Linked DNA regions of Homo sapiens. The protein of the gene in region 1 interacts with the protein of each later gene in a pairwise test. Each region holds a gene or a part of one and is shown on either strand. Other genes may lie near its edges.

What was found.
Region 2: the proteins of CDC45 (region 1) and RAB4B interact in binary tests that used the Homo sapiens proteins (3 or more experiments, as listed by UniProt).
Region 3: the proteins of CDC45 (region 1) and ORC2 interact in a two-hybrid assay, tested with the Homo sapiens proteins (one large-scale study listed by BioGRID).
Region 4: the proteins of CDC45 (region 1) and CAMK1G interact in a two-hybrid assay, tested with the Homo sapiens proteins (one large-scale study listed by BioGRID and IntAct).
Region 5: the proteins of CDC45 (region 1) and RPA2 interact in binary tests that used the Homo sapiens proteins (3 or more experiments, as listed by UniProt).

The regions. Positions count from the first base shown.
Region 1 is NC_000022.11:19,485,080-19,491,459, forward strand, and holds part of CDC45 (cell division control protein 45 homolog), read left to right. Parts: intron 1-6,380. UniProt on the Homo sapiens protein: Required for initiation of chromosomal DNA replication. Core component of CDC45-MCM-GINS (CMG) helicase, the molecular machine that unwinds template DNA during replication, and around which the replisome is built.
Region 2 is NC_000019.10:40,790,300-40,796,679, reverse strand, and holds part of RAB4B (ras-related protein Rab-4B), read right to left. Parts: intron 111-6,380; 3' UTR 1-110. UniProt on the Homo sapiens protein: The small GTPases Rab are key regulators of intracellular membrane trafficking, from the formation of transport vesicles to their fusion with membranes.
Region 3 is NC_000002.12:200,924,364-200,930,743, reverse strand, and holds part of ORC2 (origin recognition complex subunit 2), read left to right. Parts: intron 1-3,843; coding exon 3,844-3,976; intron 3,977-4,811; coding exon 4,812-4,908; intron 4,909-6,380. UniProt on the Homo sapiens protein: Component of the origin recognition complex (ORC) that binds origins of replication. DNA-binding is ATP-dependent. The specific DNA sequences that define origins of replication have not been identified yet.
Region 4 is NC_000001.11:209,605,830-209,612,072, reverse strand, and holds part of CAMK1G (calcium/calmodulin-dependent protein kinase type 1G), read right to left. Parts: intron 5,754-6,243; coding exon 5,630-5,753; intron 4,216-5,629; coding exon 4,140-4,215; intron 3,094-4,139; coding exon 2,981-3,093; intron 2,223-2,980; coding exon 2,144-2,222; intron 609-2,143; coding exon 521-608; intron 282-520; coding exon 1-281. UniProt on the Homo sapiens protein: Calcium/calmodulin-dependent protein kinase belonging to a proposed calcium-triggered signaling cascade. In vitro phosphorylates transcription factor CREB1.
Region 5 is NC_000001.11:27,892,526-27,898,681, reverse strand, and holds part of RPA2 (replication protein A 32 kDa subunit), read left to right. Parts: intron 1-974; coding exon 975-1,049; intron 1,050-1,560; coding exon 1,561-1,677; intron 1,678-4,284; coding exon 4,285-4,392; intron 4,393-4,575; coding exon 4,576-4,670; intron 4,671-6,156. UniProt on the Homo sapiens protein: As part of the heterotrimeric replication protein A complex (RPA/RP-A), binds and stabilizes single-stranded DNA intermediates that form during DNA replication or upon DNA stress.

The DNA.
Region 1 (6,380 bases):
CTTCTAATCTTTGGTTTGTGAGGGGTCCTTTTTGTTCTCTGAATTTTTTTTTATATAGCATTCTTTTAACTATCGATGAGCTGCATTTCATTGGTTCCCAAATGTCAGTATCCAATGGGATTTCCCGGGAAACATTCATGTTCTACAGATAAGTCTTGGAATTTTCCACTCTGACTAATAAACAAATATTTTTTAAGCACTTACTATGTGCCAGGTACCAGTTAGGCCCTGGGGTGCGGGTATGAGAGCAAAGTCCTGCCTTTGCAAAGCTTTCCATTGGGGGAGACAGATACTGATCATGTAAATGAGCACAATTAGGGAAAGCTTTCAGGTATCAAACATGAGTTAGCAGGGGATGGAGCCAAGAGGATTCCTGGGCAGAGCATCCATAGACACTGCAGCTCTGAGGTGGGAAGGAAAGTTTCAAGGAAGGCTTGGCCAGCAGTGCCAAAGGAACAGGCAAATGAGAACAGACCAGTGGGTTTGGCAATAAAGAGAAGGTAGGTTGTCTTGATGAGATACAGGAAAATAATCAGCGTTTCCTTTTACATACTTAACACATCAATTTGGAATTTGTGTTTGTAAATGTTTAACATAATATTCATGGATTATAATAGGCATAATTTCCCACCAACTTTTTATTTTGAAATTTTTTGAAATGTATACAGTGGTTGAAAGGATAGTACAGTGAATATCCATGTACCTTCAATCTAGAGTCAACAGTGGATCATGACTGTAGGTGGTCTCAGCTACTTGGGAGGCCAAGGCAGGAGGATTGATGAAGCCCAGGAATTTGAGAACAGCCTGGGCAACATGAAGAGAACCTGTCTCAAAAAAAACAAAAACAGTTTTTCACATTTGCCACATTTGCTTTCTTTCTGTGTATTCTTTTTTCTGTATTATTTGAGAATAGATTGCAGAAACTGATATTCTTTTTTATTTTTTATTTTGTTTTTTCTTGAGATGGAGTCTCACTCTGTCACTGAGGCTGGGGTGCAGTGGCACGATCTCGGCTCCCTTCAACCTCTGTCTTCTGGGTTCAAGCGATTCGCCTGCCTCAGCCTCCCAAGTAGCTAGGATTACAGGCATGCACTGCCACAGCCAGCCAGAAACCATGATATTCTACACATTCTTTCATAAGCAGCTCCTAAGAATAAGGACATTCTTCCCCATAAACACAATGCCATTGTCATACATAAGAAATTAATAATATCCTAATATCATGTAATATTCAGCCCATATTCAGGTCTCTTTAATTGTCCTCAAAATATATTTTGCAGCTATTTTTATTTCTGAACTATTCTCCAATCAAGATTAAGACATTTAGCTATTCCTCTTTACTGTCTTAACCTAGAACCATACCTTACCTCTTTTTTTTCTTTTGTTTTTAATGACATTGAAGGCCAGTTCTCTTTTCTAATATTTACTACTACTTGTTTCTTCATGGAGTACTTTAACTTGCTTCTCTATCCCTGCATTTTCTATGATCTGTAAATTAGGTCTAGAGCGTTGATTTTAATAACATTAAGCATTCTTGAGAAGAATACTTTTTATATAATTAAAACCTGTGCATGATTTATAACTAAGTATGTGTATATTAGAGGTATATATATATTTTTTTGAGACGGAGTCTCGCTCTGTCGCCCAGGCTGGAGTGCAGTGGTACGATCTCGGCTCACTGCAAGCTCCTGGGTTCATGCCATTCTCCTGCCTCAGACTCCCAAGTAGCTGGGACTACAGGTGCCTGCCACCACGCCCAGCTAATTTTTTATATTTTTAGTAGAGACGGGGTTTCACCGTGTTAGCCAGGATGGTCTCGATCTCCTGACCTCATGATCCTCCCACCTTGGCCTCCCAAAGTGCTGGGATTACAGGCGTGAGCCACCGTGCCCGGCTGCTTTTTAGAGGTATATTCTTAGAAATATTTTTACCAGCCTGGTGTGGTGGCTCAAGCCTGTAATCCCAACACTTTGGGAGGCCAAGGCGGGTGAATCACCTGAGGTCAGGAGTTTGAGACCAGCCTGACCAACATGGAGAAACCCTGTCTCTACTAAATACAAAAATTAGCCAGGAGCAATGGCAGATGCCGGTAATCCCAGCTACTCGAGAGGCTGAGGCAGGAGAATTGCTTGAACCTGGGAGGCGGAGGTTGTAGTGGGCCAAGATCACGCCACTGCACTCCAGCCTGGGCGACAGAGCAATACTCTTGTCTCAAAAAAAAAAAAAAAAAAAGAAATATTTATACCAGACTGGACAACATAGCAAGACACTGTCTCTACAGAAAAATAAAATAAAAATTAGCCAGGCATGGTAGCATGGTCACATAGGCCCGGCTACTTGGGAGGCTAGAGTGGGAGGATGCCTTGAGACCAGGAGGTTGGTTGAGGCTGCAGTGATCCATGATCACATCACTGCACTCCAGCCTGGGCAACAGAGCAGGACCTCATCTCTTAAAAAGAAAAGAATGAAATATTTTTATTAATAAGGGTGCACATTCAAAGAGGTTTAGAGACAATAGGTTATAAATAATTGTTTTAAGGAGTTCTGCTATAGGCCGGGCGTGGTGGCTCACGCCTGTAATCCCAGCACTTTGGGAGGCCGAGGTGGGTGGATCACGAGGTCAGGAGATTGAGACCATCCTGCTAACACGGTGAAACCCCATCTCTACTAAAAATACAAAAAATTTCCCGGGCATGGTGGCAGGAGCCTGTAGTCCCAGCTACTCAGAAGGCTGAGGCAGGAGGATGGTGTGAATCCAGGAAGCAGAGCCTGCAGTGAGCTGAGATCCACCACTGCACTCCAGCCTGGGCAACAGAGCAAGACTCCGTCTCAAAAAAAAAAAAAAAAAAAAAAGAGTTCTGCTGTAAAGAAAAGAGGAGACATGGGGTCGAGAATCATTTTTACTTGTCTTTTAAAGGTTGGATGTTAGAGCTGGACCCCAGCAAAGATGAGAGTCCGCTATAAAAATAACCATAATTATACTTAATCTACAGGTGCTATAATATCGTGGCTCAGGTCACGGGTTTCAAATTTTGTATCTGCTATAACAGCTTTGTGACTGTAGGCAAGTGACTTAACCTCTGTGTGCCATTGTAAAATAAGGAGAATAACTAGACTTAATTGTTTTGGTTCCTACTGATGTTTAACAAATTACTCCAGAACCTAGCAGCTTAAAACAACCTTTTCCTTATGCTCATGGATTCTGTAGGTTAGGAATTTGGGCAGAGCCCAGTGAGGATGACATCTTTTTGATCTGTGATATCTGGGCCCTCAGGTGGGGACTCAATGGCTAAGAACTGGAAGCATGGCTCAGACATCTGCTGGGAGGGCTCCAAACCAGGACTACTGAGCCAAGCACCTGCAGGGTCTCTCCATTGAATGTGACTTCCTTACAACATGACTGCTCAGGCTTCCAGCATGAATATTCCAGTCACCCGGGCAGCCACTGCATGGCTCTCCCGACCAGCCTTGGAGTACCTCAGCATCCAGTAGCCACAAGGGAGGGGACAGGACCCCACCATGCATTGTGGCAGGGTCAAAGAAATCTCAGGCTGTGGGAATTTTGTTACTTTATTGAGGCATAATGTCTACACAATTCACTAGGTGGTACAATTCAATGAGATTTAACAAATGTATAAAGATGCAACCACCATCCCACCATGATAGAGAACAATTCCATTACCCGCAAAAAGTTTCCTCACCAGGACCATGGCTTTTTTTTAATTAAAGTTTTTCTTTTGAGATAATTACAGATTCACATGTAGTTGTAAGAAGTAATATAGAGAGATCACTTATATACTTTGCCCAGCTTCCCCCAATGGTAAAATCCTGTAGTATAATATCACGGTCAGGATGGGAGGCTAAGGCAGGCGGATCACTTGAGCCCAGGAGTTGGAGACCAGCCTGGGCAACATGGCAAAACCCTGTCTCTACAAAAACTACAAAAATTAGCCAGGTGTGGTGGTGCACACCTATGGTCCCAGCTACTTGGGAGGCTGAGGTGGGAGAATCACCTGAGCCCAGTAAGTCGAGGCTGCAGTGAGCTGTGAGCACACAACTGCATTCCAGCCTGGGCAACTGAGACTATCTCTAAAGAAAAGAAAGTCTCCTTTCTAAATTTATAAATCATGTGATTTTTCAGTTGGCACTCTAAAGGTTAGAAATCACTGTGAAAGTTCTGCCAGAAACTGAATATGTCTATTCCATTTATGCATTCAGAAACTGCCAAAATAACCCATGGGTATTGCTTTAAAAAAAAAAAAAAAGATACAGAACATTTCCAGCACTGTAAGGATCCCTCTGTTGCCCTTTTATAGCCACACCCACTTGTCTGCTGCCTGGTAACCACTAGAGAGCTCCATTTCTGTAATTTCATTTCAACAATATTATGGAAATGGAAATGGAATTATACAGTATGTAGCCTTTTGGGATTGGCTTTTTTTCGCTCTGCATAATTCTTGGAGATTCATCCATGTTTGCTTGTATCAATGGCTCATTCCTTTCTCGTCCATCAGCATTGTGCAGTTTTCAGTGTATAAATTTTCTGTTTTTGTTAGATTTATACCTGCATAAAAACAAACAATATTTATTATTTCTGCGTGCTAGCCATAAATACGTGGACACCAAAATTTAAAATACAGTATCATTTGCAGTCAGTCAAAAAAATGCATAGTCTGCTGTTGTTGGGTAGAGTTTTTTAGAAATGTCACTTACATACTGAGAGTTGGTGGTGGTGTTGAGTTCTGTTTGCTTGCTGCTTTTCTGGCTAGTAATACTTTCAACTCTTCAGAAAGGGACATTGAAGACCCCAACTCTGATTATAGATTTGTTTGTTTCTCCTTCCAGTTCTATCACTTTTTACTTCACGTATTTATAGCTCTCTTGTGCGCACACATTTAGGATTGTGGTGTCCTTTTGGTGGATTGACCCTTTTATTCACTTAGTGTCCCACTCTGTCTCTGGTAATTTGCTTTGCTCTGAAGTGTGATTTATCTGATATTAATATTGCCACTCCTGCTCTCCTTTGATTAATGTTTGCACGATATATCTTTTCACATTCTTTAGTTTCATTCTGCCTATATTGTTACATTTGTAGTGAATTTTTTAAAACAGCATACAGTTGGCTCATATTTTTAAATCATGTTTTTTAAAGCCATTCTCTATCTCTTAATTGATAAACTTAGCTTACTTACATTTATTTTAGTTACTGACATGTTAGGGCTTAAGTCTGACATTTTATTTTCTGTTTCCTGGTCTCTGTTTTTTTTATTCTATTTTTTTCTTGTTCTTTGTTATTTGTATTTTTATTTTTTTGAGATGGAGTTTCGCTCTGTTGCCCAGGCTGGAATGCAGTGGCGCGATCTTGGCTCACTGCAACCTCTGCCTCCCAGGTTCAAGCAATTCTCCTGCCTCAGCCTCCTGAGTAGCTGGGACTACAGGCACGTGCCACCACGCCCAGCTAATTTTTTGTATTTTTAGTAGAGATGGGGTTTCACCTTGTTGGGCAGGCTGGCCTCAAACTCCTGACCTCAGGTGATCCGCCCACCTCAGCCTCCCAAAGTGCTGGGATTACAGCCACTGCGTCCAGCCTGTTTTCTTTCTTTTTCTTTCCTCTAGTGTTTGTGAGTCTATCTCCTTGTATAGATTTTTTAGTGGTTGTTTCAGGTTATTACATTACATATCCATAACTTATCACAGTCTACTGGTATCATCATTTTACCAGTTGAGTCACATGTAGAAACCTTATCTTCTTTTTTTTTTTTTTTTGAGGTGGAGTCTCACTCTGTCACCTAGGCTGGTGTGCAGTGGCACAATCTCAGCTTACTACAACCTCTACCTCTCGGGTTCAAGCAGTACTCCTGCCTCAGCCTCCCGAGTAGCTGGGACCCCAGGTGTGTGCCACCATGCCCGGCTAATTTTTGTATTTTTAGTAGAGATGGTTTTCACTCTGTTGGCCAGGTTCGTCTCAAACTCCTGACCTCAAGTGATCCACCTGCCTCAGCCTCCCAAAGTGCTGGAATTACAAGCATGAGCCACTGTGCCTGGCCTTGTCTTCTCTTAATGTCTTTTACTCTGCCCCATTTATAATATAATTTTCTTAAATATTTCCTCCACATATACAGTGTTATAATTTTTGCTTCAGTAATTAAGCATAATTACAAACTCAAGAGGATAAGTAAGGAAAGCCTATTGTATTTACCTCATTTTTGCTTACTGTATTTTTTTCTTCCTTTCCAGTATTCTAAGGTTTCTTTTCCATTTCCTTTCTATTTAAGAGTCTCCTTTAACCGTTCCTTTGGGGGAGAGCTACTGGAGATAAATTCCCTTAGTTTTCCATCTTTGAGAATTTCTTGATTTTTTTTTTTTTATTCCTAAAAGGT
Region 2 (6,380 bases), on another chromosome or scaffold:
AAGGGGGACAGGTGGCAACGTAGCTTCTCCGGGGCCAGGGCAGGTTAGGACACGGCCTCTCAGAGCCTGGGCCTGGGCCCCAGCAGGGCTGGTCCTGGAGAACAGGTGAGCTGAAAGAGAAGGGTGTGGTGACCTGCAGGGTCCCCGGGGTCTGTCCAGCCGGTCTCTATCTCATTTCCAGGTATTTCCTTCCCCTCCTATCTGCATCGGTCTGTCCATACCTTTCTTCTCCCGGTTTCTACATTGTCTGATTTTCCGCCTCTCCCCTGCAGGTAATTTGGGGCTTGTGCTGAGGGTACCTGCATCTCCCTCTTTGTTTGCCTCAGAGAGCTGTCTGAGTCTGTAAAGCCACATTTCAACATCTAAATATCATGAATCTGGATGGACGCAGTGGCTCACGCCTGTAATCCCAGCACTGTGGGAAGCCAAGGCAGGAGGAATGCTTGAGCCCAGGAGTTTGAGACCAGCTTAGGCAACACCACGAAACCCCGTCTCTACAAAAACATACAAACATTAGCCAGGTGTAGTGGCATGCACCAGTAGTCCCAGCTACCTGGGGGGCTGAGGTGGGAACATCGCTTGAGCCTGAGAGGTGGAGATTGCAGTGAGCCAAGATTGTGCCACTGCACTCCAGCCTAGGCAACAGAGTGAGACTGTCTCAAAAAAATAAATAGGCCGGGCGCGGTGGCTCATGCCTGTAATCCCAGCACTTTGGGAGGCCGAGGCGGGCAGATCACCTGAAGTCGGGAGTTCCAGACCAGCCTGACCAACATGGAGAAACCTCATCTCCACTAAAAATACAAAATTAGCCAGGTGTGGTGGCACATGCCTGTAATCCCAGCTACTCAGTAGGCTGAGGCAGGAGAATCTTGTAAACCCAGGAGGCAGAAGTTACGGTGAGCTGACATTGCACTATTGCACTCCAACCTGGGCAACAAGAGCGAAACTCCATCTCAAAATAAATAAATAAATAAATAAATAAATCGGCCAGGCACGGTGGCTCACGCCTGTAATCCCAGCACTTTGGGAGGCCGAGACAGGCAGATCACAAGGTCAGGAGTTCAGACCGCCCTGGCCAATGGTGAAACCCCGTCTCTACTAAAAATACAAAAATTAGCCAGGCGTGGTGGTAGGTGCCTGTAGTCCCAGCTACTTGGGAGGCTGAGGCAGGAGAATCACTTGAACCCAGGAGGCGGAGGTTGCAGTGAGCCAAGATCACACCACTGCACTCCAGCCCGGGCAACAGAGGGACACTCCATCTCAAAAAATTTAAATAAATAAATAAATAAATAAATAAATAAATAAATAAAATGAACCTGCCTTTGTATCTTTCTGTGTCCCTCTATGTTCCTGGATCACCCTGGCTCTAAGTCTCATTTCACTGTTCCCCAAGCTGGGGAGACAACGTTAGGTTAGTGGTTCTCACTTTGGTTGTATATAGCATTACCTGGGAGCTTCCAGAAATCCTGCAACTGGCTGGCTCACATCTTTTTTTTTTTTTTTTTTTTTTGGAGATGGAGCCTCGCTCTATTGCCTGGGCTGAAGTGCAGTGGCGCGATCTAGGCTCACTGCAAGCTCCGCCTCCTGCGTTCACGCCATTCTCCTGCCTCAGCCTCCTGAGTAGCTGGAACTACAGGCACTTGCCACCACGCCTGGCTAATTTTTTTTTTTTTTTTTTTTTTGTATTTTTAGTAGAGACGGGGTTTCACTTGATCTACAGATCAAGCCAGGATGGTCTTCATCTCCTGACCTTGTGATCCGCCTGCCTCAGCCCCCCAAAGTGCTGGGATCACAGGCGTGAGCCACCATGCCCAGCCTGGCACACGTCTTTAATCCCAGCACTTTGGGAGGCCAAGGTGGGAGAAATCGTTTGAGGCCAGGAGTTTGAGACCAGCCTGGGCAACATAGTGAGACCTCATCTCTATTTATCTTTTAATTAAGAAAAAGTCCTGAAACCACTTCAGAATCTCTAGGGTGAGGCCTGGGCATCAGTATCTTTTAAAATTCTCCAGGTCATTCTAATGTGTGTCACTGCCTTGGTGGGGAAATCAGTTTGGTGGGTCTTGACCAATTTTTAAATTCAAACAGAATAGCACAGAACGGCAAATACCAGAGTGCATCATATATAATAAGAATATTCTATTGGTTGGGCAGGCACAGTGGCTCACACCTATAATCCTAGCACTTTGGGAGGCAAGGGCAAGAGAGGATCACTTGGGCCCAGGAGTTCAAGACCAGCCTGGGCAACATAGACACCATCTCTACAAAATTAAAACATTATTTAAAAAAAAAAATTTTGTAAATAGGCCGGGCGCAGTGGCTCATGCCTATAATCCCAACACTTTGGGAGGCTGACAGACGGATCACCTGAGGTCAGGAGTTTGAGACCAGCCTGGCCAACATGTTGAAACCCTGTCTCTACTAAAAATACAAAGAAATTAGCTGGGCGTGGTGGCGGGCGCCTGTAATCCCAGCTACTAGGGAGGCTGAGGCAAGAGAATCGCTTGAACTTGAGAGGCGGAGATTTCAGTGAGCCGAGACCACACCATTGCACTCCAGCTTGGGCAACATAAGCGAAACTCCATCTCAAAAAATAATAATAATAATTTAAAAAGATATATTATATTGGTTGGCTGGGCTCGGTGGCTCATGCCTGTAATCTTAGCACTTTGGGAGGCTGAGGTGGAGGATTGCTTGAGGCCAGGAGTTTTTTTGTTTTGTTTTGGTTTTTTTGGTTTGTTTGTTTTTGTTTTTGTGAGACGGAGTCTAGCTCTGTCGCCCAGGCTGGAGTGCAGTGGTGCGATCTCGGCTCACTAAAACCTCTGATTCCAGGGATCAAGCTATTCCTCTGCCTCAGCCCCCTGAGTAGCTGGGATTACAGGAGCACACCACCACGCCTGGCTAACTTTTGTATTTTTAGTAGAGGTGGGGTTTTACCATGTTGGTCACCCTGGTCTCGAACTCCTGACCTCGTGATCTGCCCGCCTCAGCCTCCCAAAGTGGTGGGATTACAGGCGTGAGCCACTGCGCCCGGCAAGGCCAGGAGCTTAAGACCAACCCCGCTAACACAGTGAGACCATATCTAAAAAAAAAAAAAAAAAAAAAAACAAAAAAGAAAAGAAAAGAAAAAAGGAAAAGAGGCCAGGCATGGTGGCTCCCACCTGTAATTCCAGCACTTTGGGAGGCTGAGGTGGGTGGATCACTTGAGCTCAGGAGTTCGAGACCAGCCTGAGCAACATGGTGAAACCCCATCTCTTCAAAAAATACAAATATAAAAATTAGCTGGGCGTGGTGGTGCACACCAGTAGTCCCAGTTACTTGGGGGGCTGAGGTGGGAGAAACACTTGAGCCCAGGAGGTCAAGGCTGCAGTGAGCTGAGATGGTGCCACTGCACTCCAGCCTGGGTGACAAAGTGAGACCCTTCTCAAAAAAAAAAGGAAAAGGAAAAGAATATCATATTGGCCAAAAGAGACAGAAAACAAATTGGTGGTTGCTAGGGGTTGGGGGAAATGGAGAGTGACTGCTTAATAAATATGGGTACAAAGGTATAAGGTACAAAGCAGTATAAGCATGGCACCTCTGAGAGTAATGAAAACGTTCTGAGGCCGGGCGCAGTGGCTCACACCTGTAATCCCAGCACTTTGGGAGACCGAGGCGGGTGGATCACCTGAGGTCAGGAGTTCAAGCCAGCCTGGCCACGGTCAAATGCCGTTTCCACTAAAAATACGAAAATTAGCCGGGTGTGGTGGTGCATGCCTGTAATTCCAGCTACTCCAGAGGTTGAGGCAGGAGAATTGCTTGAACCCTGGAAGTGGAGCTTGCAATGAGCCAAGATCGCACCACTGCACTCCAGCCTGGGTAACAGAGCGAGACTCTGTCTCCAAAAAAAAGAAAAGAAAAAAAAAGAAAACATTCTGGAACAACACAGAAGTGGTGATTGCACAACCCTGTGAATGTACTGAATGCCACTGAATTGTACACTTTGAAAAGTCACGTAAATGTATGTTATGTGACTTTCATTTTAGTGCCAAGAAACGAAAGAATACTGGTGGTAGGAAAATGTGTGTTTGAGTTTTATATGTGGGTGGGATCTGCTACAGTCAGTCCTTGATTAACACATAAAATATATTTCCTCCTGTAGATTGCAGTCAGCAAAGTGTGAAAAAGCCTTGCCTTGCCTTGTTACATTTCACCTACTGAGGGCAAACTCTCTAGGACAGAGTCTCTGCTAAGCCCTGAGGTGAAGAAGACACACCCATTCATTTGAGCTCAGCCCAAAGATGGATAAGAAGAAAACTTTAAAAACAGCCCTCATCGATCAAGTCTTGACCATCAGGCCCCATTCTGAGCACTTTCGTGAATTAATGTATTTCTTCTTCTCAACATCTATAGAAGCAGGTGCTATTATTAGCCTCATTTTACAGATGAGCAAACTTAGGCTCAGGCACAGCAGGTGCAAAGTCCTGGAAAGACAAGAGAGCACTGTCTGAAGACATCATCCTTGATTCCTCTCTCTCTTTCAGATTACACATCCATTCCATCAGGAAATCACGTTGGCTCTGCCTTCCAAGTAGATCCAAGGTCTAACCACTTGTTCCCCACCTGTCCCACCCTGGAGCTGCCAAGGGCTGGGAGGGGATTTAGCATGAAGTATAGAAGGGAGAACTGGCAAGACATACACATCCCCCAGAGAAGGAGGGATGGGACCAAATCCTGCAGGGTTTTGAAAGCCTGTCAAGAAGTTTGGGGCCGGGTGCAGTGGCTCATGCCTATAATTCCAGCACTTTGGATGCTGAGGTGGGTGGATCACTTGAGGCCAGGAGTTTGTGAGCAGCTGGCCAACGTGGTGAAACCCTGTCTCTACTAAAAATATAAAAACTTTGCCAGGCGTTGGTGGCCCATGCCCATAGTCCCAGCTACTCAGGAGGCTGGGGCACCAGAATTGCTTGAACCTGGAAGCGGAGGTTGCGGTGAGCCGAAATCACGCCACTGCACTCCAGCCTGAGTGACAGAGACTCTATCTCAAAAAAAAACAAAAGTTTGGACCAAGCCTGGAGGAACAAGTAGTGCTGCCTGGAGGAAGGAGGTTGCCAGGGAAAAGAGGGTAGGAATGTTCCAAGCAGAGGCCCAGCATGAGCAAGGGCCCAGAGGAATGGGAAGAACTTCAGTGTGGCTGGAGTGGCCTGAGAGGTAGGGAGACCGACAAGTGGCTGAGGCCGGTAAGGCTGGGCTGGCAGGGGCCAGTCCCTGCAGAGGGTCAAACACCAGGCTGAGGAGTTCATTTGTGTCCTGGGGCCCTGAGATGCATGGATGGTTTTGAAAAAGGGAGCGACAGGAGCAGATATGTGTGTTAGAAAGACCCAGTGGCTGCATCAAAAGGAGACAGGATTGGCAGGGCACAGTGGCTCAGGCCTGTAATCCCAGCACTTTGGGAGGCCAAGGCGGGTGAATCACCTGAAGTCAGGAGTTCAAGACCAGCCTCACGAGCATGGCAAAACCCTGTCTGTATTAAAAATACAAAAATTGGCCGGGCGCAATGTCTCACGCCTGTCATCCCAGCACTTTGGGAGGCCGAGGCAGGTGGATCACGAGGTCAGGAGATCGAGACCATCCTGGCTAACATGGTGAAACCCCATCTCTACTAAAAATACAGAAAATTAGCCAGACGTGGTGGCACGCACCTGTAGTCCCAGCTACTCGGGAGGCTGAGGCAGAAGAATCACCTGAACCCAGGAGGCGGAGGTTGCAGTGAGCCGAGACTGCACCACTGCACTCCAGCCTGGGCAACAAAGCGAGACTCCATCTCCAAAAAAAAAAAAAAAATACAAAAATTAGCTGGTTGTGGCAGTACATGCCTGTAATCCCAGCTACTTGGGAGGCTGAGGCAGGAGACTCACTTGAACCCGGGAGGCGGAGGTCGCAGTGAGCCAAGATGGCGCCACTGCACTCTAGCCTGGGTGACAGAGTGAGCAGAGTGAGATTCTCTCTAAAATTAAAAAAAAAAAAAAAAAAAAAGGAAAGGCTCATGCCTGTAATCCCAGCACTTTGGGAGGCCGAGGCAGGAGGATCACGAGGTCAGGAGATCGAGACCATCCTGGCTAACACCGTGAAACCCCATCTCTACTAAAAAAAATACAAAAAATTAGCCGGGCATGGTGACGGGTGCCTGTAGTCCCAGCTACTCAGGAGGCTGAGGCAGGAGAATGGCATGAACCCAGGAGGCGGAGCTTGCAGTAAGCCAAGATCGCGCCACTGCACTCCAGCCTGGGTGACAGAGCGAGACTCTGTCTCAAAATAAAAAGACAGGAACCAAAAAAAAAAAAAAGAGAGAGGCCAAGACTGGAAGACAGAGAGTCTAGGGAGGACATGAACCCTATTCC
Region 3 (6,380 bases), on another chromosome or scaffold:
TTACTTTTATCCTTGCAGTTAAAAAGACTTGAACATAAGGAAGTGCTTAAAATGTACACTAATGTGAATATACATGCACACTCACAGTTACATTGTCACTGAGGTAAATAAGAAGGTAGAGCCATGGACCAGGCACTTGGCCTCCCATAATCCCAGTGCTTTGGGAGGCCAAGGCAGGAGGATTGCTTGAGCCCAGGGGTTTGAGAGACTCTGTCTTAAAAAAAAAAAAAAAAAAAAGTTATGCTAGGAAGGGAATGATTAACTTGCCTGCAAGAACCTCAGCTTCTCTCAATAACTATTTATGGATCTATGCATTATAAATTTGTAAGCTCTTCATTCTAATCCCATCCCCAGCCCATCATTTTTTTCTCCCAGCGTGTCAACTTAGATAACTTAATTTGCTTTGCTTCTCAGATTAGACCTTATAGTCAGCAAGTTTGTTGGAATTGCTAGCTCTCTGAATTCCTTGCCTCTTTATTTCTGCTGCTTTGACCTTGGTAATCTCTACCTTTGGAGGTTACCTCTTTTCTGTTCTTCCATTTCTAGGTTATCCTGCATTGCCAGAGAGCATCACATAAATACTGTTTCTGCTTGACCTTTGTAAACAATCACGGAGTTGGACTTTAGCTTGACCTCTAGTGCTTGGTGTTCTGGGTGGTCTCATTCACCCTTCTGGCTTCAGTTGTTTTCTGTATATGAATGACTCATGTAACTGTTAACCTCCAACCCATACCTCACTCTCAGTAGCAGACCTGGATATCTGAATGTATATTAGAAGTTTATACTTGGGTGTCCTGTAAATAATTCAACATACATAAAATTAAACTCATCTGAAATCCACTGTTCCCACCTGCCCCTGCTATCCAGCAGAGTGAATGACTGAATGTTAGTCACTCCATTTGTGTAGTTGCCTATGGCAGAAAACTGAGTCATTCTTTTTTTTTTTTCTTTTCTTTTTAAGAGACAGTCTCACTCTGTCACCCAGAATGGTGTGAATACAGCTCAAGGAGCCCCAACCTCCTGGGTTCAAGCAATCCTCCCACCTCAGCTTCCCAAATAGCTGGGTCCATAGATGTGTGCCACCATGCCTGGGCTAATTTTTTTTATTTTTTATTGTGTAGAGATGAGGTCTCACCATCTTGCCTAGGCTGGTCTCAAACCCCTGGGCACAAGCAATTCTCTGCCTTGGCTTCCAAAACTGCTGGGATTACAGGTGTGAGCCACAGCGCCCAGCCCTGAGTCATTCTTAAGTATTCTTTTCCTCACTCTCCACATCTAATCAGTCTCCAACTCTTACTGGTTTGACTTTCTATAAAGTTCTTGACATTTTAACATTTTTCTCCATGACAGCTAAGTTAATCTTCCACAGTTTTGTTCCTTCCTGTCCATTCCCCAAATATAATCAATGTGATCTTTCTGAAAAGAACATGTTACTTTCCTACTTAAAACCTTTCTGTTAACCCCTCATTAGTTACTTTTAAATGCTCATTCTTGGCTGGGCACGGTGGCTCACGTCTGTAATTCCAGCACTTTGGGAGGCCAAGGTGGGTGGATCACCTGAGGTCAGGAGTTCCAGACCAGCCTGACCAACATAGTGAAATCCTGTCTCTACTAAAAATACAAAGTTAGCCGGGCTTAGTGGTGCATGCCTGTAATCCCAGCTACTTGGGAGGGTGAGGCAGGAGAATTGCTTGAACGCGGGAGGCAGTGAGCCAAAATCGCACCACTGCACTCCAGCCTGGGTGACAGAGCAGGACTCCATCTCAAAATAAATAAATAAATGCTCATTCTCCTTGGAATGAGTGAATTAATGGTTTAGTATGACTTAACAAGGCCTTTGTTACTTGACCTCTTTTCAATTTGTATCAGTTTCAACTCTGCTTCAGCCTATAAAAGTTTTTAGGACTTTTTTTTTGTTGTTTTTTTTTTTGAGACAGAGTCTTGCTCTGTTGCCCAGGCTGAAGTGCAGTGGTGCAATCTCGGCTCACTGCAAGCTCTGCCTCCCGTGTTCACGCCATTCTCCTGCCTCAGCCTCCTGAGTAGCTGGGACTACAGGTGCCTGCCACCACGCCCAGCTAATTTTTTTGTATTTTTAGTAGAGACAGGATTTCACCGTGTTAGCCAAGATGGTCTCGATCTCCTGACCTCGTGATCCGCCCGCCTCGGCCTCCCAAAGTGCTGGGATTACAGGCGTGAGCCACTGCGCCTGGCCTTTTTAGGGCTTTTATTGGCAATGGTCTCCCTTGCCTCCAGTCATCTGTCATCTGAAAAGTAATAGAAGCTACAGTGAAGCTACTGAACAAATTAGAACTAGAAGCTTGGTATACAGATAATAAAATTGTGCCTTTACCTTGTATGGGTTTGGAATAAATATTTATTTATTTATTTAAGATGGAATCTTACTCTGTTGCCCAGGCTGGAATGTAGTGATGTGATCTCAGCTCTCTGCAACCTCCACCTCCCAGGTTCAAGCAATTCTCCTGCCTCAGCCTCCCAAGTAGCTGGGATTACAGGCACCTGCCACCATGCCCAGCCAATTTTTGTATTTTTAGTAGAGACAGGATTTCACCATGTTGGCCAGGCTGGTCTCGAATTCCTGGCCTCATGTGATCCACCTGCCTCGACCTCCCAAAGTGCTGGGATTACAGGCGTGAGCCATCATGCCCGGCCAATAATAATTTTTAAAAAGAATACTTTTTTTTTTTAGGAAGGAAGAGGAAGAACTGGGATGGCTGAATCACTAAACATTGATTCCTGGCCTTGCACGGTGGCTCATGCCTGTAATCCCAGCACTTTGAGAGGCTAAGGCAGGCACATCACCTGAGGTCAAGAGTTCAAGACCAACATGGTGAAACCCCGTCTCTACTAAAAATATAAAAATTAGCTGGGCATGGTGGCGGGCGCCTGTAATCCAGCTGCTCAGGAGGCTGAGGCAGGAGAATCGCTTGAACCCGGGAGGCGGAGGTTGCAGTGAGCTATGATGGTGCCACTACACTCCAGCCTGGGCGACAGAGCGAAAAAAAAAATTATTATTAATTAGTTAATTTTTTTTTACAGACACTGTCTTGCTCTGTTGCCCTGGTTGGAGTGCAGTGGCGGGATCTCGGCTCACTGCAAGCTCCGCCTTCCGTGTTCACGCCATTCTCCTGCCTCAGCCTCCCAAGTAGCTGGGACTACAGGCACCCGCCACTGCACCCAGCTAATTTTTTTTTTTTTTGTATTTTTAGTAGAGATGGGGTTTCACTGTGGTCTCGATCTCCTGACCTCGTGATCCGCCCACCTCGGCCTCCCAAAGTGCTGGGATTACAGGCGTGAGCCACCGCACCTGACCTAATTTTTTTTTTAAATAAAAATATTTTTGGCTAGACATGGTGGCTCACACCTGTAGTCCCAGCAATTTTGGGGGCCAAGGTGGGTGGATTACTTGAGCCCAGTTGTTCAAGACCAGCCTGGGCAACATGGCAAAAGCTCATCTCTAGTAAAAATATAAAAATTAGCCAGGTATGGTGGTGCACAGCTGTAGCCCCAGCTTCTTGGGAGACTGACGCTGAAGAGTTGCTTGAACCTGGGAGGCTGAGGTTGCAGTGAGCCAAGAGTGCCACTGGACTCCAGTCTGGGTGACAGAGTGACTCTGTCTCAAAAAAAAAAAGATACATATATATACATACATGAAAAACTTTTTTGCGTTTGCCTTCCCAAAATTCGGGGATTACAGGCTTGAGCCAGTGCGCCTACCCCTTTCCTGTATTTTTTATAAACTGAATTTAAGGAAACTGGTTGATAATAAAATTGGCAATAAGAGGTATTGAAGTTTAATTTCATGAATACTGTCTTTCCTAACAGCCTTGGGTTCAACATTGTGCTTTATGGTTTGGGTTCTAAGAGAGATTTACTAGAAAGGTTTCGAACCACTATGCTGCAAGATTCCATTCACGTTGTCATCAATGGCTTCTTTCCTGGAATCAGTGTGAAATCAGTAAGTTTCAAAAATGTTAAAGGGAAAAACATTATATCCTCTGCCAATTCAAGCCCCCACATAAATGAGGATGGAGTATTAAAGAATTTTTGTTTTAGCCTTCACGGTAGTAGGATTGTATAGTGCTTAATACCATGTGTTTGGACTCAAGAATCTAGCTTTGAAACCATCTTCGAATGTCCTACATTGTAACTGACATGTATTAAAACTTAGGAAAATGTTAGCTTTGTTTACTATACTGAGTATCAGTGGTACTTCTGAAGGAGGGAATTATGGGGTCTTCAGTTTTGTTATAAACTATGAAAATGCTTTATTAGGCAAAAACTACATGCTGTGAAAATGCTTTAAAATGCAACAGGATGTGATGTGAAGACTGTAGTTTAACAATACATTTATCATAGATCATTTTTATTTCAAATGCTTAATATCTCTTCATCATTTGAACATGAAATCTTTTGGGTGCTGGATATTGAGCCATATAGTATTCCTTTTTTAAAGTGTCTGTAGTGTTTGTGTCCTGTTTCCTTTGATAGAACTGTAGTTTTCTAATGTTTCTCATGTTCTTGGGAGCTTTTTCATTTGTTTTTGCTGCCCTCTTATATTACCTATTACCTGTACATCTTTGCTATTCTTTTCTGTTTTCTTTTAGCCACAACTTAGGCAAAAAACAATGAATTAGATATACTCAAGTACCAGTAGAATTTTTAAAAGTTATTTTTTAAACTTTTGGGAAATCCAAATTCATTTTTAATTTATAAAAAAAGGTTTGATTTTCTAGTTGTATATGACAATAAATTGTAATTAATGTGGTACCTCTTCCACATTCATGATATAGGTCCTGAATTCTATAACAGAAGAAGTCCTCGATCATATGGGTACTTTCCGCAGTATACTGGATCAGCTAGACTGGATAGTAAACAAATTTAAAGAAGGTAACATGAAGTAGATGCTCGGTAGTTTTAGAGTAAAGTTAAGCATATACTTCTACTTATTCATGTATTTATATACATACAATATTATTATTATTATTTTTGAGACAGTCTCTCTGTTGCCCAGCCTGGAGTGCAGTGGTGCGATCATGGCTCACTGCAGCCTTGACCTTCTGGGCTCAAGCAATTCTCCCACTTCAGCCTCCCAGGTAGCTCAGATCACAGGCGTGTGCCATTATGCCTGGCTAATTTTTTATTATTTGTAGAGATGAGGTCTCGCTATGTTGCCCAGGATAGTCTTGAACTTCTGGGCTCAAGCAGTCCTCCTGCCTTGGCCTCCCAAAGGGCTGAGATTATAGGTGTGAGCCACCACACCTGGCCCAAAAAGATTATTTTAATAATGGCATTTATCTTGGTGCTCTAAAAAAGTTTGTCCTTTTTCTATGAACTTTTTCCGTGAACTTAACAGGAAAGAAAAATGTTAGTCCCACTTTCTTAAGTTTGTATATCCAAAAGCCTGTTTCTGTTTATAAAACACTCCAAAAGTGCAGTGGCACGATTTTGGCTCACTGCAACCTCCGCCTCCCGGGTTCAAGCAATTCTCCTGCCTCAGCCTCTCAAGTAGCTGGGATTACAGGCGTGCACCACCAAGCCCAGCGAATTTATTTCAGAATAATTTTCAGGTTTTGTTTTGCTTGTGTAAAGTGCCTCCACTTGAGTGGTACAAGTTTGTCTGATATTTTTATATTGTTTAATGTTTTTATAAAACATTATTTCTTGGCTGGGCGCAGTGGCTGACGCCTGTAATCCCAGCACTTTGGGAGGCCGAGCTCAGTGGGTCACCTGAGGTCAGGAGTTCGAGACCAGCCTGGCCAATATGGTGAAACCCCATCTCTACAAAAATACAAAAAAATTAGCCAGGCGTGGTGGCACATGCCTGTAGTCCCAGCTACTTGGGAGGGTGAGGCAGGAGAATTGCTTGAGCCCGGGAGGCAGAGATTGCAGTGAGCCAAGATCATACCACTGCACTCCACCCTGGGTGATAGAGTGAGACTCTATCTAAAAATAAATAAATAAATAAAACATTATTTCTTTATTCTGTGTACATATCATTACATTGAGATAATTTTATATACTAAGATCTCTTGATTCTTTTGGTGTGAATGTTTTGGTTATGTGAGTATGTCAGAAAATTGGAAATAGTATTATATAGTCTCTAACAGTTAATTGCCATTTAGTAATGACTAAATTAAGAATTAAGAGAAGTAATTGAGAATGCCTAACTGCTTTGATGGATAATTTTTTTGATAATGACAATAATCTTAGCTCTGTTCCGTAGTACTTTTATCTTGTCAATATTCTAGCATGTTCTTTAGTTTTGTCTTCATTTTGTTTCCAACCTGAAAAGCTTTCTGTCCCAAATTTCCTTTCACACTCCTACACCCATTTTATCCACAGTTCTTTATAGAAATGGA
Region 4 (6,243 bases), on another chromosome or scaffold:
ATGTGGAGGGAGCCATTGACCAGGCAGTTGAGGGACCTGCCACCAGGGGCAGTGGGCCGGCGGCCATGCTGGCAGGGTAATTGGGTCAGGGCAGGGAGTGCTACACTGTGGTCCAGGACAGGTGCCTCGGTGATGGTGATCTCAGGGGAGCTGGGTCTAGAGGTTTCTGAGGCTTGAGTTTCAGGCGGCCTGTTCTCCACCTCTGGGCGGACGCCCGGGCTGTGCAGGTTCATGTGTAGCTTCCTCATGTGGTGCACCACAGCTGCTGCGTTGAAGGCTTGCTAAGGAGACACAAGAGCAGCCTCTGGCCTTCTGCAACCTCAGAGGGCCTTGGAGCTTAAACTTTCCCTTTGCCTTGTGGCCTCTTGAAACCTGGGTGCCCACTTCTCATTTCAGAGAGGGTACACGGAGCTCCAATGCCTTCTGGGACATCCCAAGGAAAGCCCTTATGTCAGCCCCTGCCAGCCCAGCCTCCAGGGGCCCAGAACAGCTTTCCCACCCCCTGGAGAGGACAGCTTACCCTCCACTTGCTCTTAGCAAAGTTCTTCTGGATCTGGAGGCTGACTGATGGGTAGATGTCCCGGTGGAGGGCTGTGTTTCCGTCAATCCTGTGGATGTAAGAGGGGACACCTGGCTACTGGGTGGCTATTTACACTCATCCAGGGAGTGGGCAGGGTGCCTGCAGGTCTAGGTGAGAGCTGGGTAGAGTGTGCAGAGGAAAGACAGCCCACAGCAGGAAAGGGCTGCAAGCAGGTCTCCTCTGTGCCCCTGGGCAAGTAAGAGTCGGCTTTAGCTTTGGCAAAATCAAAAACTTTTAGAGCAAGGTCAACAAGCTATAGCCTATAGGCCAAATCGACCTATTGCCTGTTTTTGTAAATAAGGTTTTATGGGGACACAGTGGTGCCCATTAATTCAGGTATTGTCTGTGGCTCCTTTTGCACTGTGACAGCAGGGTTGAGTAGTTGCCATAAAGACAGTATGGCCAGGAAAGCCTAAAATATTTACTATCTGATGCTTTATAGAAAAAGTTTATTGGACCCAGCATCACAGGGCACTGGGGTAGTCACCATCCTTTAGCTCAAAACCTTGCCTAGAACCCACCTCCTCCTGGAAGCCTTCCTCAGTAAGGCCGTCTGGTACAGGCTGCCCCTTTCCTATCCCCTTAGCCTCTTATTCACTGGTCTCTAAGTGTTCCTCAGACACTTGCTGTGTGCATAGTACTGTGCCAACTACTAATAGACCTCGAGAAGTAAGAGACATGGGCCCTGACCCCTAGGAGCCTACAGTCTAGATGTCGGGTGTTGTTCATGCTATGGACTGCAGTAATACATGGTAAGCCGTGTGATTAATAAAGAGAACTGGGGAGATTGGGTTGGGCTGCAGGGGTCAGGGGCTTCAGGGAAGGGCAGAGACTGATCTGGATCCTGAAAGATGCTACATACAGGGCAAGAGGCAGGACATTGTAGGTAGTGGGAATGATCTGATCCAAGGTGTAGTTAAGACAGAGCTTGGTATGTGGGGTGAGACAGATATAGCTCCCAGGCCTATCTGGACAGAGGAGGTATGCTGGCAATCCTGGGAAAAGAGGCTGGAGATAAAGGGTCAGGCCATATTAGGGAAACTGGAAAGACAAAGGAATCCAGGCTTGCTGGGGTATGAAGTGGGGAGCTATTGTAAATTGAGTTGGGAAGTAACATGAAAAAATATTTTAAGATTTTCTTTTTCCTATTTTGCCAATCGGTTGCTTTGCAGTTGTTCTTAAATCACTTCACCTGGAACAGTTATTGATCCCTGAGTAAAACAAAGCTCTAAAGGACAGGACAGAGTTGCCCATTCCTGGCACTTCTTGAATAACTAGTACTGAACATTGCACCCTATCCCAGTGCTGAATGACAGCGCTCGGCTGCACCTGCCTCCTGCACTTGACCAGACAACCCAGCTGCTACCCTTGCATTAGAACCTGCTCCACTGTATAATGTTTGAATCTCTACCTGGGCCTGATGAACAATGGCATGGTCCTTGCTTGTCACATCATTAAATGGATCAGGACAAGCAGATTCCAGGGAAATGCAATATGAATGAGTCAGCATGGTTTTGGGAACTACAGGGCTGGGGTCTAGAGTCCACTCCATGTCTCACTCACCAGGGATGACTCAAGGCCTTCTCACAGGTGTACCGCTCGTTCGGATCCTTCTCAAGCAAGTGGCAAATAAAGTCCTTGGCTAAGGGGAGTAATCAAAGACACGACGACTAAGGACCAGATTTCATGACTGATGGAAATTCACTTCCGGGCTGGTGGGTGGCAGTGAATGCATCTTTAGCTGATCTTCCAAAGAGGCAATTTTAAGAGTCTTAGAAGAGGAAAAAAAATCCAAACCACCTAACAACAACCCACCATAAACCACCAAAGAAGGGAAGCTCCAAGCCGCCTCACCCACACAGCACTGCAGAAGCGTCACTAGTCACAAGGCCCCCATGTGCCTGCACATCACATGTGCATGTGTTTGCACTGAAACAGGGGCCAGCGCTGGCACATGGGCACGCATGTGAGTGCTGGATTGTTCCAGCTCTGATTTCCACTTAACAGGTCCAACAATCACGTAATGATCATCTTCTCTCACACATAGACATTGCATGCTCTTTCTTGATATCTAACCCCTTAGTTTTGCTGCTCTTGTCTGGAACTCTCCCCTCACCACCTGGCTCTGCCCTCCTGGCCCATCTTCTAAACTGCCCCCCCATCTCCTTTTCAGGCATACTGTGGTTCTGCCTCCAGAAAAACAAAAGCATAGCTCTTAGATGTAAATAATTTATCGGGTCTTTGAAGCAGACGAAGATTTCTCCACTTTCCTTGGCAGCCTGTTCTGTAAGATCCCCAGGGACTTTGAAGAGCCGGGACTGTCATCCTTTGTTAAGCTCATTTCTCTTGGCAGCCTCTACCTTGAGCCTGTTATCTCTCCTTCATGCCTACTGGCCTTACCTGACTCAGAAATGTCATCCCAGAATGGAGACTCAAACTCATAGTAGCCCTCCTTGATCTTCTCGAAAAGCTTAGACTCCGTTTCTTCATAGAATGGGGGGTATCCACAGAGCCTGCAGCAGGACAGGAAGGAGGCATACTACTGAACAAACCTGTCCTCCCTGAGCCAGCCTCTCTGCTCCCCCAAGCTCCCACTGTATACACAGGTGGGCACTGAAGGTCCCAGAACAGTGGTGTGACCAGGACGCAGATCTGCCTCAAATTCCAGAATGGTACAGGTCCCGTAAAGTGTTTATGCAAGTGCCAAGCCTTGGCACAGTCATCCCTAGAAGGTCCCTGTGTACATTATGCCCTCCAACCCTTGCCACCTCTCCTTATACTTTCCCTGACTTATGAATGCTATATAAAATATGTTTAAGAAAGTTGGTAGACTGTCTACTTGAATGTAAGCTTGATGAAGGATTTATTTAGGCTGTGTTGTTCACTGCGGGATTCTTTAGAACCTAGCACAGGGATAGATGCAGAGTAGATAGGCAGTGAATATTGGTTGGGTAAATAAATGAGAGTACTTATTCAACATAAATGGAGGAGATAATTGAAACCAGGTTATTTTCCTAAGAGCAAAGTTTGCTATAGGTGAGGAGGGATGGTGGGGAAGAGGTGATGGGCAGGTTAGGAAAGGGAGAGCTTGGGAATGTGTGGAGAGGAGCGAAAAGGAAAGGCCCTGACCAGCTTTATCCAGGCCACAGTTTTGCCTTGGGAAAGCTGAGATGTAGGAACAGAGGGTCCACCTGGCTTCCAAGCCTGGCTTGGCCTCTCTCTTTTTCACTGTTCATTCCACTGAGTGGGATGCAACACATTTATAGGCAGTAAAAGGGGCAGGGGTGCAAGAGGAGGGAGTGCCAGGTGGCTGTGCAGTGGATTCACGCTGAGCTCTGTTTTAAAACTTGGTGGAGGTGAAGAGAGAGGAAGCTTTTAAGCTGTGTGTACATGTATGTGTGTGTGTGTGTGTGTGTGTGTACCCGTGTGCCCCTGTGCCTGTGTCTGTTTGTGCACATGCACGTGCTTGGAGGAGGAGCTGAGACAGGGGAGGGAACGAGAAGGGGTAAGCAGGCTCCGAGACTTCTCATCAGCTGAACCCAGGCCAGCGTCTACTCACAATATGTAGGTGATGACGCCGATGGACCAGCAATCCACAGCCTTGCTGTAGGGTTTCTGGGCCAGCACTTCTGGAGCTGCAGCAGACCAAGGGCAGAGTCAGGGCTGGTGGCAAGAGGAGAGGGCTTTGGGGTGGGAGCTGAAGGCCAGGCTTAGAGAAGAGGTCTGGGGAAGACTGTGGGATGGTGGGGTTTCTAGGAGACTGAAAACTCCCTAAGGGTAGGGGCTGTGTCTCTTCTGGGAAGACTAAATCTTCCTGAAAAGAGAGACTGTGACTTCTGCATTAGTTTGTGAGTTTCCCCATGACAGGGTCGATGACTCACCTGTTGGACTGGGGATCTCCAGGGCTATGTCTCCCTGATTACACTGAGTATTCTCTGAAGGCAGGGCCTGTCTCCCCACTCAGATAGGGGATTCCCAGGGCAAGTGTGATCTCTCTCCCTTCAGACTGGGAGATCTTCAGTGTAGGACTGTCTCTCCTCCACTAGACTGGGAGCCTCTGGGAGGCAGAGACTGAGTCACCCCCATTAGATTAGGAGCTCCCAGAGCAAAGGCAGTATGTCTCCCATCAGACTGTGGGTACCTTCTGAGGGGAGGCATTTAGTCTGTCCCATCAGATAGAGAGCTTTCAGAGGGCATGAGCCATGACTTCCTCTGATTAGGAGCCCTGTGGGGTGTAGAGAGCTGCCTTCTGTATTTCTTGCAGCTACCAGAGCTTTGTACCTGGTGGGACTCAATACCTACTGAGGAGTGAATGACCTGCCTTTCTGGGAGGGTAGATTCCCTCTCTTGAGTCAGAGCTCTGCTTCCCATTACCCAACTGCAAACAGGTGACGACTGGTGAAGTGGGAAGGGACAGGAGCGGATGCTCTGAGTTTCAACTTTGTCTCCTGTAGATCCCAGGAATACTCTTCCAGGTGCCCTGCCTGCTCTCACTCTTTTTGGGGGCCCTGGAAACCTACAGGGATGTTCAAGCAGGAAGCTCCACCTTTGCCAATTTCCCAGAGTGCTTCCTTGGGTGGACATTTAGGAGCCCATTTCTGGGTTCCTCAGGCCCAAATTCAATATCCTGTGCTTCCAGGCTCCCAAGAACTGGGGGCTAATGTCTCCTTCAGAGTGGGAGAAAGGAGTAGGGTTGGTGCTCAACCCCTCAGCTCTCTGCTGATCTCTGGGTTTGTGATCTTGTCTGCCCCTGGTCCAGCTGGAAAGACAAAGGCTGGAAGTCTATCCGCAGAAATGAGAGCCAAAGCATAGGCAGGGACTCTGGAGGGCTCAGGGGTAGGCGGTCTTTAAAAATGTAGAATTTGGGAGCAGTAGAGATAGATCCTGAGACGGATGAATTGGCTGGCCCTAAACTTTATAAGTGGATGTCCTACCAGGATAGCCCCTGAAGTTGAACCCTATGTTCTCAGAATCACCCCTTTCTATGAATGATAGGCATGTGGTTGAATGTAGCCAACTGGTCAACCTTCCTCCTGCTCCCAGACTTACCCACGTAGCCTGGGGTCCCACAGGCAGTGGACATGATGCCATTCTGTTCCATCTTGGACAGACCAAAGTCAGTGATCATGATCTTAGAGTTCTCTTCAGGGGTAAGGTAAAGCAGGTTTTCGGGCTGTAGGAGAAAAAATATGTAGTGTAGGATATAACCACCTGAAGCAAGTATTTTCCTTCCCCTTGATACAAAATTTCACAGGAAGATGAGCCCTGGGCTCCTGACTTCAAGGCCAGCTCATCCTCCCCCATTCTTCCCTTCTTCCTCCTACCTGCACCCTCACACCTGCACCCCAGTAGTCTGCACCTTGCTTATGGCTCTGACTTTGCTCGGTCTTGTAAACATTAATATACTCACCCTTTCCTTCCCTCACTTCCAACTACCCTGTTTGTGTTTTGAGAGAACCAATCTTTGGTTAATGGTGTCTGATCTCTCCAGAGTCCAGTGCAAGGCCTAGTACAATGTAGGCCCTCAGTAAATATTTTGTTGCATTGGGTTTTGACTGTGGCTGGATGTAAGAAATGTGTGTATTATTTTGGTATTGAAATAGGGTAAGGCATAGTGAAAGTTTCAGGAAAAATTGAGGTGCAAATTAGTAACCATTGTTCAC
Region 5 (6,156 bases), on another chromosome or scaffold:
CCCAGCTATTTGGGAGGCTGAGGCAGGAGAATCACTTAAACTTGTGAGGCAGAGGTTGCAATGAGCCGAGATCATGCCGCTCCACTCCAGTCTGGGTGACAGAGCAAGACACTTCGTCTCAAAAAAAAAAAAAAAAATCAGCTAATGTATTTTTCTTATAAATAATGTGTGCATATTCTAGGAAACTGATAAGTATTAAAATCGTTTTTAATTATCTTAGTCAACCATTATAAACAGTTTAGTGTGTATTGTCCCAAATGGGAAATCAGCTTTTTTCCATGTATCATGACTTGTTTTTCCAGGCAGTAAATAGAATTCTATGTTATCATTTGCAACAGTGTGGAGTATCCTATTATATAGAAATGTGTACTTTATGTTGGATATTTAGGTTGTTTTAAAATTTTTAATATTCTATACTATGATAAATCTAAATCTTAATGCATGTTCTTAATTACTTCCTTAAATTCCTAAAAGTAGAATTGCTTTGCCAATAAGTATATCCACCAGAAAATTGTGTGCCTGCCGGGCGTGGTGGCGGGCGCCTGTAATCCCAGCTACTGGGGAAGTTGAGGCAGGAGAATTACTCAAACCCTCCCTTGGGAGGCGGAGGTTGCAGCGAGCCAAGATCGTGCCACTGCACTCCAGCCTGGGTGACAGAGCGAGACTCCCTCTCAAAAAAAGAAAAAAGAAAATTGTGTGCCTAAGAGCTTGAACGAGAGTGTCACAATTGTTTGCTTTTTTATGATGTGCTACAGAACTTTGGAACTGATAATTACCTTTAGAGATATTTTTATTCTAATTCCTGGTTTTACAAAATAAGTTGTAAAAGGCAGGGCAAACTACTTAATGCCATTTTAGGATCCTTTAACTCTTCTACTTCGTAACTTTCTCTTTCTATACATAATATAGAAACGTTAAAGAGGCTTTTACCAGCATCACTAAAACTTTAATGACATGTTTGTATTTTATGTTAGGACACCAGCAGTGAAAACACTGTGGTTCCTCCAGAAACATATGTGAAAGTGGCAGGCCACCTGAGATCTTTTCAGGTAAAGTCAGAATAAAATAACAGTTAAAGTGTTTTTGCATGAAGCAGTTTCTAGATTCATGTCATGGCTTTTGGATAGTTAAAATACTTAAGTCTCCCTGTTTAATGGGAAGTTATTTCTTACTCTCTTCAAAAGGAAATAACTTTTCTTTTTTTTTTTTTTAACCTTAACATGAAATTAACAGAATGGTAAAGAAAGAACAGAATCTCCTTCTACAATTGCTATCTGTGGCGTTCATTAGTTGGAGAAAGGAGAACACTAGATTCGGAGTCAGGAGTCTAGATTTTGCTTGGTTATGCAATCTTGGGAAAATTATTAATGTCCCTTAGCTATTAGTTTTAGTTTTTTTTCTCCTCATGTTTGACCATATTTGGAATACCTCTGAGAGTATATAACATTTTTCTCATATTGGTGAAATATTAATATTATAACCAAGGAAAGAGCCACAGTGTTGACCTGAAATTAATGTATGTTCATATTTTATTCACATTTTTTTCCTTCATTTTAATAGAACAAAAAGAGCCTGGTAGCCTTTAAGATCATGCCCCTGGAGGATATGAATGAGTTCACCACACATATTCTGGAAGTGATCAATGCACACATGGTACTAAGCAAAGCCAACAGCCAGGTGAGTAGTCTCGCTTTCCTAGCTTTTTCTCTTCCCTGGAAGAACACAGGCTACTTTTGTGTTCCAGCTTTGATTTCCTTGATATTTTGAAGGCCGAGCCAGAGAAAGACATCACTAAGTCCTCAGAACACTTTCTCCATTAGCTTTGTCATTGTATTTTATTCCAGATGAAACACTCATGTTTCTCTCAGAATTAGGAGTTCCTCTGACTCCACTGGCCTGGACAGCTGAGGCCTGTGACAACCCTCAGGTGTAGACATGTAATTATAGGCTCTTAGCTCTTATATAGCTCTTAGCTCCAGGATTGTCAGTGCATACTCAGAGAGTAGTCCCCTTCAGGACAGCATTTTGCTGTCTTCCTTCCAACTTACTGGCTAAGTAGGAAAAATTATGTATTATTATTTTTTCCCTGAAATTATATTTCTTGGTTCATATTGAAATTTCTCCCTAGTATTTTCCATTGTGTGAATTCACTTTGACAAGTCCATCTAGGACCATGCAAAACTAGAGTTGACTGTAGTATTAGAAAGCCCTCAGGGCAAGGTGTGGTGGTTCATGGCCTGAAATCTCAGCACTTTGGGAGGCTGGTGTGGGGGCATCACTTGAGCCCAGTTCAAGACACCACGCTGGGCAACATAGGGAGACCCTGTCTCTACAAAAAAAATTAAAGAATTAGATGGGCTACTTGGAAGGCTGAGGTTGGGAGATCACTTAAGCCCAGGAGGTCAAGGCTGCATTGAGCTGTGATCGTGCCACTCACTGCAGCCTGGGCAACAGAGCAACCTTGTCTCAAAAAAAAATAAAGAAAAAGAAAAATATTTATTGCGCCTACTTTGATTTGATAGTCCCAATCATTCTAGTCGGCATTCGAGTATAGCAGTGAACACTATATACTTACATTCTTGGGAGAAACAAGTAATAAACAAAAATATATGTATAATTTTAGGTAGTTATATAGGTGCTCTGAAGTAAATAAAACAGGAGAAGAGGCTGATGGAGGGAACAAGAATGGTACAATTTTAGATGAGGAACATTCTAAACCAGAGGGACTAGGATGTGCAAGAGCCAGGAGTGTGGAGTAAGCATGACATCTCTGAAACCAGCAAGGCCAGTGTCTGGAGTGAAGTGAATGACAGGGGAGAGGGAGAGGGTTGTAGGCAAGGAGGCAGGGCCCAGATTATATGGGGCTTTGGAGGCCATGGTAAGGATTACCTTTACTCAAATTTTTAAAATTTTGTTTATTTGGGTTTTTTGTTTTTGTTTTTGTTTTTTTTGAGACAGAGTCTCGCTCTTTCGCCCAGGCTGGAGTGCAGTGGTGCGATCTCGGCTCACTGCAAGCTCCGCCTCCCGGGTTCACGCCATTCTCCTGCCTCAGCCTCCCGAGTAGCTGGGACCACAGGCGCCCACCACCACACCCGGCTGCCACCACACCCGGCTAATTTTTTGTATTTTTAGTAGAGAAGGGGTTTCACCGTGTTAGCCAGGATGATCTCGATCTCCTGACCTCGTGATCTGCCCGTCTCAGCCTCCTTTCAAAGTGCTGGGATTACAGGCATGAGCCACCACGCTTGGCCCTTTTTTTCGAGACAGTGTCTCACTCTGTCACTCAGGCTGGAGTGCAATGGCGTGATCTCGGCTCACTGCAGCCTCCGCCTCTCGGGTTCAAGCAATTCTCCTGCCTCAGCCTCGCCAGTATCTGGGATTACAGGTACGCACCACCATACCCAGCTAATTTTTGTATTTTTAATACAGGCGGGGTTTCACCATGTTGGCATCCGGTTAGCAGTCCGGCTGGCAATGAGGATTTGTGGCCTAGGAGGCGGTCTGGGATGAGATCCTGGGGACACTGTCAGCTTTTTGGGAGACAGATAGAAGAGGCTAATGAGGGATACTGAGAAGGTTCAGTTTGAGAGGCAGATGGAGAACCAGAAGAATGTGGTGTCAAGAAGCCCAGGGAGGAATACATTTCAAGAGGAGTGTGGTCAGCAGTGTCTGCTTCCGAGAGGTCAAGTATTAGGAGGACTGAAAGAGACTTTTGGATAATTGGTTGAAAAGTCTTTGGTGACTTTGGTGAAAACAGTTTCAGAGGTGTACTGGGGGACAACCCAAATATGGTGGGCTGAGGAGTGACTGGGGAGAAAGGAAATGAAAATAGTGATTGCAGAGCATTTTAAGAATTTGGTGGTTAAAAAAAAAGAAAGAAAGAGAGGACGATAGGGACTGTGTCTCCTTTTCTCTGCCTGTGGTGCTTCATGCCTATTGACACTCAGTGAATGCTTGAATGATTGGGCTCCATGGATACCAAAATAGCAGACTCTGGGTAATTTTCTTCTTGCTGCTACTCTTCTCTGGTTCGTCTGACATCACAAACAAAAGGAGCCAAGAGTATCTTTCTCTTTTTGATATTTATGTGCTTCGGGGAGTTACTTTATCTTCCTGTGAAATACTCATTAGATAATAGCTGTCCACTCCAATGTAAGCAGTGTTATAAACTGGGAAACTGTTTATAAATTGTTTTTTGTAAGCTGCTTAACGAGCTATTTTAAGTAGTAAAGACTGTTTAACTTGATGGATTTTCTAATATTGCTAACTTATTTCTTAATTCAGCCCTCAGCAGGGAGAGCACCTATCAGCAATCCAGGAATGAGTGAAGCAGGGAACTTTGGTGGGAATAGCTTCATGCCAGCAAATGGCCTCACTGTGGCCCAAAACCAGGTAACCTCCACCAGAGTGGCTTCAGAAATACAAAACACAGATAGTCTTAAATTTTGTTACTTCCTTAATGAGCTACGACTGTTTAAGTACCTGGTTCATTTCTTTTCTATAAAGGGACTCAGGTTTGCAAAGGGGAGGCTGATCCAAAATAATTGCTAAAATCTTTCTGATTTGAATCTTCAGGTGTTGAATTTGATTAAGGCTTGTCCAAGACCTGAAGGGTTGAACTTTCAGGATCTCAAGAACCAGCTGAAACACATGTCTGTATCCTCAATCAAGTAAGTATTTGATTTTCATGAGCTCAGGCTCTGGCATTGTACCTATTTCACCTCACAAGGGTTTCCTGATAGTGAGAAGTGGGTTTAAAAAGTAAAACTTGGCAGCCGGGCATGGTGGCTCACGCCTGTAATCTCAGCACTTTGGGAGGCCGAGGCAGGTGGATCACCTGAGGTCAGGAGTTCGAGACCAGCCTGGCAAACATGGTGAAAACCCCGTTTCTACTAAAAATACAAAAATTAGCCGGGCATGGTGGCACGCAACTGTAATCCCGGCCACTCCGGAGGCTAAGGCAAGAGAATCGCATGAATCCAGGAGGCGGAGGTTGCAGTGAGCCACCATCACACCACTGCACTCCAGCCTGGGTGACAGAGCGAGATTCCATCTCAAAAAAAAGTAAAAGTTCGCCAGGCATTAGCTCATGCCTGTAGTCCTAGCACTTTGGGAGGCTGAGGTGGGCAGATTGCTTGAACTCAGGAGTTCAAGACCAGCCTGGGCAACGTGGCGAAACGCTTGTCTCTACAAAAACAATAAAAACAAATTAGCCGGGCACAGTGGCGCATGTCTGTAGTCCCAGCTACCCAGGAGGCTGAGGTGGGAGGATCGCTTGAGCCCAGAAAGTCAAGGCTGCAGTGAGCCATCATTGTGCCACTGCACTCCATCCTGGATGACAGAGTGAGACTGTCACACACACAAAAAAAACTTAACTGCAACCCTGTTGGCAGAATGGAAATCGTTCAGCTATGGAAAAATAGGAAAAAGACTATGGGCCAAAATGGTGCTACCCATCACATCACTCATTCAGCAAGCACTAAGGACCACTATATGTGAGGGATATATAATAATTCTGAGCAAAAAGTTGACCTGATTTCATTATGGGATTTAGACTGGAGGAAGGAAGTCCTTAGCTCCTGGTCGTCAGGTGTACAGTCCTGTTGCTGTTACTGTCCCCATTGTGGACATGAGTGTATTAGGCTATCTGTACCTTATTAAACAATCAGTCCTTCCAACACCCTTGTCCTGATTCCATCTTAGACAAGCAGCCTCCTGATTCCAGTGTAGTAAACCAATCAAACAAACTGACTTATGGTGCTTGTGATAGTTATTTGTTACTATAAATCAATTGACCTGCCAGGCCTAGATAGATAAGAAATGCTCAGGGCTGATTCCATTTCCTGTCCTGTAAAATTAGGATAATAATTCCTATCTCAGAGTTGCGTGCTGATGAGGTAGAGAACTGCTGTTACTTAGGTGCTCTGTAGATTGTGGCTATTAAATACGTTACTGACACTAACCCTGAGGACCTTGAAGGGTTTGAAGGTTTCAGAGTGTTTCCTTTGCTTCCCACAACTTTACTTCCCTGAGAGGGACCAACGGGGTTTCAGTGTGTGGCTGGAAAAGGGGGACTTTTAAAGACAGTGGTTTCTACTAGGAGATTTTGTGTGCAAGTGTGACTACAGCTTTAGATCCTTGTTTTCCTGCTTAGAC